Linked DNA regions of Homo sapiens. The protein of the gene in region 2 interacts with the protein of the main gene of each other region in a pairwise test. Each region holds a gene or a part of one and is shown on either strand. Other genes may lie near its edges.

Region 1 (4,613 bases), on a different chromosome or scaffold from region 2:
GTATATAACAAAGCTATCTCACTGCCTCTTGTCTTATTTTTATATTTACTTGTTTTATTATCTATTCTTCCTCCTACAGCCCCTCCCCAATTTATTTATTATGGCTCACTGCAGCTTTGTCCTCCCAGGCTCCAGTGATCCTCCCACCTCAGCCTCCTGAGTACCTGGGACTACAAGCACGTGCCACCATGCCTGCCTAATTTTTAACTTGTTTGTAGAGATGAGAATCTCATTATGTTGCCCAAGCTGGTCTTGAACTCCTGGTCTCAAAGGATCCTCCTGCCTCAGACTCCCAAAGTGTTAGAATTACAGACGTGAGCCACGACACCCAGCTTCCCTCTCCAATTTAAAAGCTCCTTGAGAATAGAGGTGTGTCGTTATTCATCAATGAATCCTCAGCAACAGAAACAGTGCCTGACACTTAAGAGAGGCACTATAAATACAGATGGACTGACTGACCAACTGGGGTTAATGTGTAGGTAATAATAGGAGAATCTGTTCCAGCTCCAAGAGTTGGGGGATAGTGCCTCCACTTTACTGACCTCGGGATAAGTCTGTCCCTGCTGCTGGATATTCCCTCATTTGTTCGCAGACATTTATTGCGGGCCTTCTTTATACCTGCCCTATGCGGTGTATTACTGATACAACATGAACAATATGGAAAAAATGCTTTTCCTAAAGGACTTAAAACCCTGTGGGAGCGACAACAAGGAAACAGACAATTATAAGACAATATGATAAATGCTATAGGTCCACAGCAGAATCACCTAACCTATGACGTGGGTGGGATTAAGGAAGGCATTCCCTGATATGGGGATTACCAGGCACTCTCAGCTCAGGTGGAAACCGTTATGGTAAGGTCCGCTCTCAGAGGTGGTAGGGCCCAGAAATGACATCATCCTAAGTGTAAGTATGCAGACAGCACACAGAGGGGCTTGGTAACTGAAGCTGGGCCCAGAGGATGGGGTCCTGACCGATTGGGAAGCTGTCAAAGCCATCATTCCCAGCTCATAACCTGGGACCCATGACTACCCAGAAAGGCATAACCAGGATGAAGAAACACAGGTCTCTCCAGCTTACTGGAGAGACTGACTGGGGAAGCTCCTCACAGCTGAGGCCAGAAACCTTTTAAACAGAAGTTTCCTCTGAGTGGACCTGAACAAGCCAGTTCCCTCTTCCTTAGGACGGCCCTTCACAAATCTAAGCATTTTCCTCTTAGCTTAATCCCTCCTTGTCTCAGGTCTCCCCCAGGCCCACATCCGAAAGTAGATGACAATAATTACTTGTTGAATGAACGAATCATGAGGAGTCATGTAAATAGAATTCTGTCACGTTGTGAGCCCACATTCACCTTACGGGTATATTGGAGGGCGGGAAAACGGAGATGGGGGGCTCCACTAATGTGTGTCTGTGATCCTGGTTAGATCGCTGTAGGCCATAGAAAGTTTCATTTTAAAAAAATTCCTTTCACAGATCAGAAGTGATGTCCCCGTCCCCGTCTTCTCTTCTGAGTTTGTGCAACGTCAAAACTACAAGTCCCATAAGGCCGGCGGCCGGGAGTCACCATCTTGACATACCTTAGCGCGCATGTCGGCGGGAGAGCGAGCGTTTGGGGAGAAGAAGCCCCGCCTGACTGCAGCCCATTGGTCAAAGGGGTCGGCAGCGGGCTCAGCGGTTGGCCACAGCGCCCGCCCGTCCGCCGCGTCGGTCGGGGTCAGAGTGCGCGGAGGTGAGTCGGTGTGTTGTGGACTCGTGGTGCTGGCTGCCGCTGTTCAGGCGGCCGGGAACGGGCGGTGGGGAGCGGGCGGAGCTGGCCCTGCCTCTGCCTGGCCGGCGCCGCAGTCGGCGCGGGCCGCGCCCGCCGCCGCCAACTGCCCTGAGCGCTTGCTGAGGCCGAGGGAGACGTCGGGGCCTGCACCTGGAGGGAGCCTGCCGCGCTGGCCCCGAGGAGGGGGCGTTGCCATGGCGACAGCCTCTCCCGCTGCTGACGGGGGGCGGGGGCGGCCCTGGGAAGGAGGGCTGGTCTCCTGGCCCCCCGCCCCTCCCCTTACTCTCCCCTGGACTTGGATGGGCCCGAGTTGGGGGCAACACCCCGGGGTGGGTGATGCTGAATGGCCCCGCCAAGATTGGGCCCTGGTTAATGCATGCGGGGTGAGGGTCGCGGTGCGCAGAATTTATGCAACCTGGGGTGCTGGCCCATGTGCTTACCCTGGATGCTTACTTAATCTACTGAGTAATGTTCTGGCGGAGGGGGAGCGGGGCAGAGCTTTGCAAGACAGGATGGGTGAGTTTATTAAGGGGGTTGACTTACTGGGATTACTAGAGAAGAAAAAGGTTTGACTAGAGAGGCTAGAAATGGAGCATGGAGATTGTGGGTAGAACATTCCCTTGACCCTCTCGCCAACACATGCCCACACACCAGGTTAGCAGTTTACCTCTTTGTAAATCTGAAGCGGTGGTAGTAGTGATGGTGGAAGGAGTGAATAAGGGCCTAACCTGGCTAGCTTTCTGTTTGCCTGTCTTGCAAATGGTCCAGCAACAGGTGTTTTCTTAAAAAAAGCATGAACTTGGATTGAGGCTTGACTGCGAGTTCTTGCAAAATATAACTGCTCCTTGTTGACTTGGAAGATGCTGGATGTGGGGCCCCTCAATGGGGGTTTGGATTTTGTCCTTAGAGCTGGATTTTGCAACAAATAGTGCCCATCGTTGTGTCTGCGAGAGGTCTCTGGCCACTTCAATGGCATTTACTCTTGTCAGACATTTAATCAGTCTCCCAGCGGAAGGGCAGCAAAACATGAATCCTATTGGCTAAAAGAGTGTACGCTATTCAAACTATAGTAGGTTGTGAGTGGCTAAATGAGTTTTGATTGTAGAGTTTCTTCCAGAAATTGGCTTCATCAAATTCTGCTTTATTCTGACTTTATCATATACAGCATGCCTTGTTTTAGTGGGTTCTTGCTTGGAGCTTAGTTTATTATACCTGAATCTCCTACCATTTAAAAGCCAATTTATAAACAGGGACTTGGAGTGTGACTCCACTAATGTGTGTCTGTGATCCTGGTTAGAAACCCACTTGGCTGCCTTTTCCTCAGGAGGTGGGGGTTGGGGGAAGGGAGCTGCCGGGAAGTGATTGATAAGGTTTCCTTTATAGATTCTGTGGTGCTTCACTGGAGCTCAGAGCACTTTGGCAACTTAAGCACTCCAAATTAAAAGCTCATTAACAATTCCTGCCCAAAGATCCTGTAAATAATCAGCTAGCTAGGTCATAGAGCTTGGCTAAGAGCTTTTCTTCCAACTTGAAATTTCCAAATAAAAGTGCTTTTATTCCCTTTCATTTTAAAAAGTGTTTTCTTTGTGGTGGGGTAAATTGGTGAGTGGCCTTTTCCCAGGGGATCTGAGTAGAAGAAAGTCTTAAATGTGTGGAATGGTAGACAGGAATATATTAGTTCCAACCCTAGGTGTTTCTTTATGCAAAAGACATCACTAACAGGGGCATCTCTGCAACTTCTGGTCCTTTGGAGGATATGAATTAGTTGAAAAGGATGATAGGTATCTATTGATGTTTTGACTTGGGATTTAGTTACCTTGACTTTCTTAGAGCTTGAAGCAGGCTTGGAACTATCCTGAAAGTGTTTCCTAGTCTATGTGGCCATTTTCAGTATGGCTTGTGGATTTGTGGCAACCAACCCCTACCCCAGTCCTGGCCCAGCCTTAGTTCCTTAGTTCTGAATATTGTCAGCCTTACCAGTGTCTTCCTCCTTGACTAGACTAGGATTCTGAAACTACCCAGAGGCACCACTTCATAGCTATCTTTCTCGGTAAATGTTTAGTGTTTCTAGGAGGTGAGCCTCCTTAGGAGCAAAAGTATATGACTAGAGAACATGAAAATCATTACAAATGTAGTACTAATAGTTTCTGAAAGCTCTGTGGGGGCACTGTCTTTGCACATAGATAGCAGTTATCCCGAAGTTTGAGTTTAGAGTTTGAGGTGTAGTATCCTTCATGGGGATTTGATCCTTGGTATTGAAATAGACTTGTTGCAGAGATGTGTATTTATCCACAGCATTGGGGCTTTCCAGCTCTCACAGAACCTTCAGCATCCCCAGCTGCCGGTCTTGGCATCTTCGAAGTAAGGAGAGGTGAGAATCCTGTTGCATGGTCAAGTCTGGCTTTATTTTCTTCTGAGTATTTGGGCTTGGAGGGTAGGGGGTGGGGGCTGATGCAGATTGTATTTTTTTTCCCATGTATCCCCAAAGTCTAAACGAATCATATTTTTTTGTAGCTTCTTCTGATAAAGTAACATATGCTCAAAGTCTGTAGAAACTTACTTAAAGTTTCTAAAGTGGTAAGAGTTGGAGGTGGGAGATCCAGACTGTCAAGTTCTGTCACAACTGCTTTATGGGCATCTCATGAGCACCTACTTTAGGTTCAGGATGGTTGAATAGAACCAGAATAGCCCATTATCCTGAGAAATACACATCTTAAGAAAATAGGAAGAAACATCTTCATTTGGCTTTAAACATTTATCTATCTATCTATCTATCTATCTATCTATCTATCTATCTATCTATCTATCTATCTATGAGACCTTGCTAGGTTGCCCATGCTGGGCT
Region 2 (3,816 bases):
GGAGACTGAGGCAGAAGAATCGCTTGAACCTGGGAGGCAGAGGTCAGGGTGAGCCGAGATCGCGCCATTGCACTCCACCCTGGACAATAAGAGCGAAATTCTATCTCAAAAAAAAGAAACAAAAAACAATGTTTAAAGGTTAGAAAATGTGACAGGTCCGAGTGTACACCTACTACTGGATTTCTAAATGACTCGCTGTGCTATTCAGGATAGATTATCTTCATGTGCTTACATGGTCTGCCAATATTAACAAACTCCCTGATTCATCTCAATATTAAAATGCCCTTTTTTCCCCTCCAGAGATCTACTTTTAAACATTTTCCTCTTAAATTTAAGTCAGTTAATAAAATAAGGAAACTCTCTGATCTCCAAAAAATGGCCTAGGGAAATCTCCATTTACACTGCAACAGCCAGATGAAGAAAAAATAACTATATACCTGCCTGAAGCAGACCAAGGGGGAGTAAAGAGGCATATGGAGACTGTGTAGGATACATCTTCAATATTTACTTTTGCATTTTTTAATTGTCATAAAATATACATAACAAAAAATTTACCATTTTCTGCATTCAACTTAGTGGCATTACATACATTCATAATGTTGTACAACCATCGCCACTGTTCATTTCCAGAAATTTTTTATCATCCCAAACAGAAATTCTAAACCCATGAAACACTATCTCTCCATCTTCCCTTCCCCCAAGCCCTGGTAATCTCTATTCTACTTTTTGTCTCTATGAATTTACCTATCCTAGTCATCTCATGCAAGTGGATATATACAATATTTATCTTCTTGTGTCCGGCTTATTTCACTTAGCATAATGTTTTCAAGATTCATTCATGTTATGGCATGTATTAGAACTGCCTTCTTTTTTATGGCTGAATAATATTCCACTGTACCAAAATATTCCAATATATAATACCATATTTTGTTTATCCATTCATCTGTTGATGGGCATGGGTTGTTTCTACCTTTTAGGTATTGTCAATAATGCTGCTATAAACACTGGCTTTTAAGTACCTGAGTCCCTGCTTTCTTTTGCGTATAGGAATAGGAATGGAATTGCTGAATCATATAGTAATTCTATGTGTAAATATTTATGAACTACAGAACTGTTTTCCACAGTAGCTTTATCATTTAACATTCCCAACATGCAATACACAAGGATTCCAGCTCAATATATTTAAGTATTCTCTAATTCACTACTTCAGAATAATGTTTACCTCTATTTCTTAATCAGAATTATTTTTCTTGAGATTAAAAAAACCATGATCGAAAAATCAGAAACAGCATCTAAAGACTTTTATTATTTTCTTTCCCATTGAATGACTTAAACAATAAAAGATATAGAAGGTATAGAATGGGTTTTTTAAAACCTTTAAAATACTAAGAGAAAATGAAGCATAATATCCTAGAAATACATTAAGTATCCTATATGTACAACTTGTACTGTTAAAAACTGGTCAAATCTGACCCCTAAGTAGACACATACTAGAAAACCTCGCATCTGAGTGACTGAGTATAAAACGTAAAATATCCAGAAATCTTTTAAAAGAAACTTACTCTTATTACTGGCAAGTTCATACAGTACCTGGAACTAAGCTGCCCAGGAGGATCTTGCTTTAGTAAAAGTAGAGGAGAAGGACATGTAATTACCTTATCTAAATACTAAACTCAGGACTCTCCACAATCTTGCCCAAACACAAAGGCAGAAGAAATGAAGCTAAAAGCAATAATGATGCTCTTAAACCTTTAACACCTGCTGTCCCCAATCTGCCATCAAATGCTTACACATGACAAAAGAAGTTAACAAGTAGCAAAACAAATGTCAATAGAAAAACTCCAAAACCAATAAATAGGCATAGTTGGAGTCTATTGGTAGAGTGGAGTGGGGTGGGGGAGGCAGATATTGTGTTTATTGTTGTGATGTATTTTGCAAGCAAATAATATAGTTCTACCCATTGCTGGTAAACTGTTTGTAGTTCACATAATAGCATTGAGTCAATCAATATTTATTTCATGGCAATCCACAGAGAGCACTGACTTTCCAGGGGCTCCTGTATCTCTATGAAAAGACCACCAGCAGACCAGCATCAGTGAATGCATTCTGCATTTTTACACTGCTTTTAAGTAAATTGATTTTCCCAAGGTGCTTAAAAGTGGTTTGTTCTTTTAATTAGGTAAATATTCCTCTTAAGATCTATTTAAACTTGATATTTACAGTAAAACCTTTTCATACAGAATAGGCAGCCAAACTTTATCCTAGCCTTGCCTAGATAATTGCAAATCCCTAATTAGCTACATCTAGAACAATGGCGTTATTTTTAATAGAGACCCCTCTTTCATAGGCTATGGGGAATCTTAAATCCCTTAAAAATAAATTAAACCATTATATTTCCTGGGATCTTAGAATCTTCAATTATTTCTAAAACATCCCACCTTTGTTCATGTATAAAGATCACTTTCTACACAATTATTTCAACAGAAAGCTTTTCATAATTGTGAGTTAGGATCATGTCAATTTAAGTAAGTTTTTATGACTAGTTGGCCTTTATGAAAATCTTTACTACTCTTTCCAGGGTCAAAACAAAGATGTATCCTTACATTCTAATATAATTTAGAAGCCTTAAAGTCTAACACAGCCTGAAGGTGCTCCAATTTTACTATTTCTCAAATTTCAGAAGGTAGCAAAGAGTTGAACTTACCACCATCCAGCCTTAGGAGTTTGGTGGTAGACACTGTTCTCTATACAAGATTCCAAAAACATCAGAACAGAGTAGAACATTCCATTAACAAAGAACCTGGTCTAGATCTCAACAAATGCATTCTGAGTCAATAAACAAGTAACTGAAATGAAATTACATTTTAAGCTCAAATAGAATCATTTAACACAAGACACACTTTGATACTTACTAGAACCTCAAATAACACTGTGACTCAACACCATCTCAGAAAAATCCCCTACCACCCTGCAAAATGGTTATTTGAAACTGATGAGGTATTTTAATGATATTATAAAAACAAAACAGGGCCGGGCAAGGTGGCTCATAACCTATAATCCCAACATTTTGGGAGGCTGAAGCGGGGGGATTGCTTCAAGCCAGAAGTTAGAGACCAGCCTGAGCCACAAAGTGAAACCCTGTCTCTATAAAAATAAAAAAAAAAACATTAGCCAGGCATGGTGGCGTGAACCTATAGTCCTAGCTATAGCCCTACTCAAGGATCACTTGAGCCCAGGAGTTCGAAGCCATAGTAAGCTATGATAGAGCCACTGCACTCCAGCAGCAGTGAAACACTGTATCTTAAAAAAGAAAAAGAAAAAAAATTAGGAGCCAATGTCTAAACTGACACTGAGTAGTGAGTGCCAAGGGCATCAGAAATTCTGATCCAACACTTACAGAATGCTAAACTTGCATATCTTAACTGGGGAGAAACAAAGAAAAATTCAACAATCGATCCATTTTCAAACTGACAAACATCCTCATCTGTATGTAGATGGCTGATCACGACTGTCTATCGATCTTATGTGATTTATACTTGGTGGTTTTAAAAACATTTCTGTCCCCTGATCTTCAACTGGCACCCCACATACCTTCTGTTTCCAAGAACTGGTCCTTGACATTAAACCTGCACCACAAACAAACTCCCCTCCAGGTGAGCTTGTTACTAGGGTCTGGCATCTCACTGGAGGTACCTTGCAAAGTGCTCAACTACCATCAAGTCATCCTTCCAGTTGGGCCTGTGCTTGTCTACCTGCCCCTATCTAGCCACAATAATTCAAGCATTCTCTCCCTCTTTACAACACATAATGCCATAA

The links.
Region 1: the proteins of FNDC3B (region 2) and ERI3 interact in a two-hybrid assay, tested with the Homo sapiens proteins (one large-scale study listed by BioGRID).

What each region holds. Positions count from the first base shown.
Region 1 is NC_000001.11:44,352,376-44,356,988, reverse strand, and holds the start of ERI3 (ERI1 exoribonuclease 3), read left to right. Parts: upstream 1-1,731; 5' UTR 1,732-1,962; coding exon 1,963-2,097; coding exon of another isoform or gene 2,098-2,151; exon of another isoform or gene 2,152-2,236; coding exon of another isoform or gene 2,237-2,284; intron 2,285-4,063; coding exon 4,064-4,139; intron 4,140-4,613.
Region 2 is NC_000003.12:172,045,836-172,049,651, reverse strand, and holds part of FNDC3B (fibronectin type III domain-containing protein 3B), read right to left. Parts: intron 1-3,816. UniProt on the Homo sapiens protein: May be a positive regulator of adipogenesis.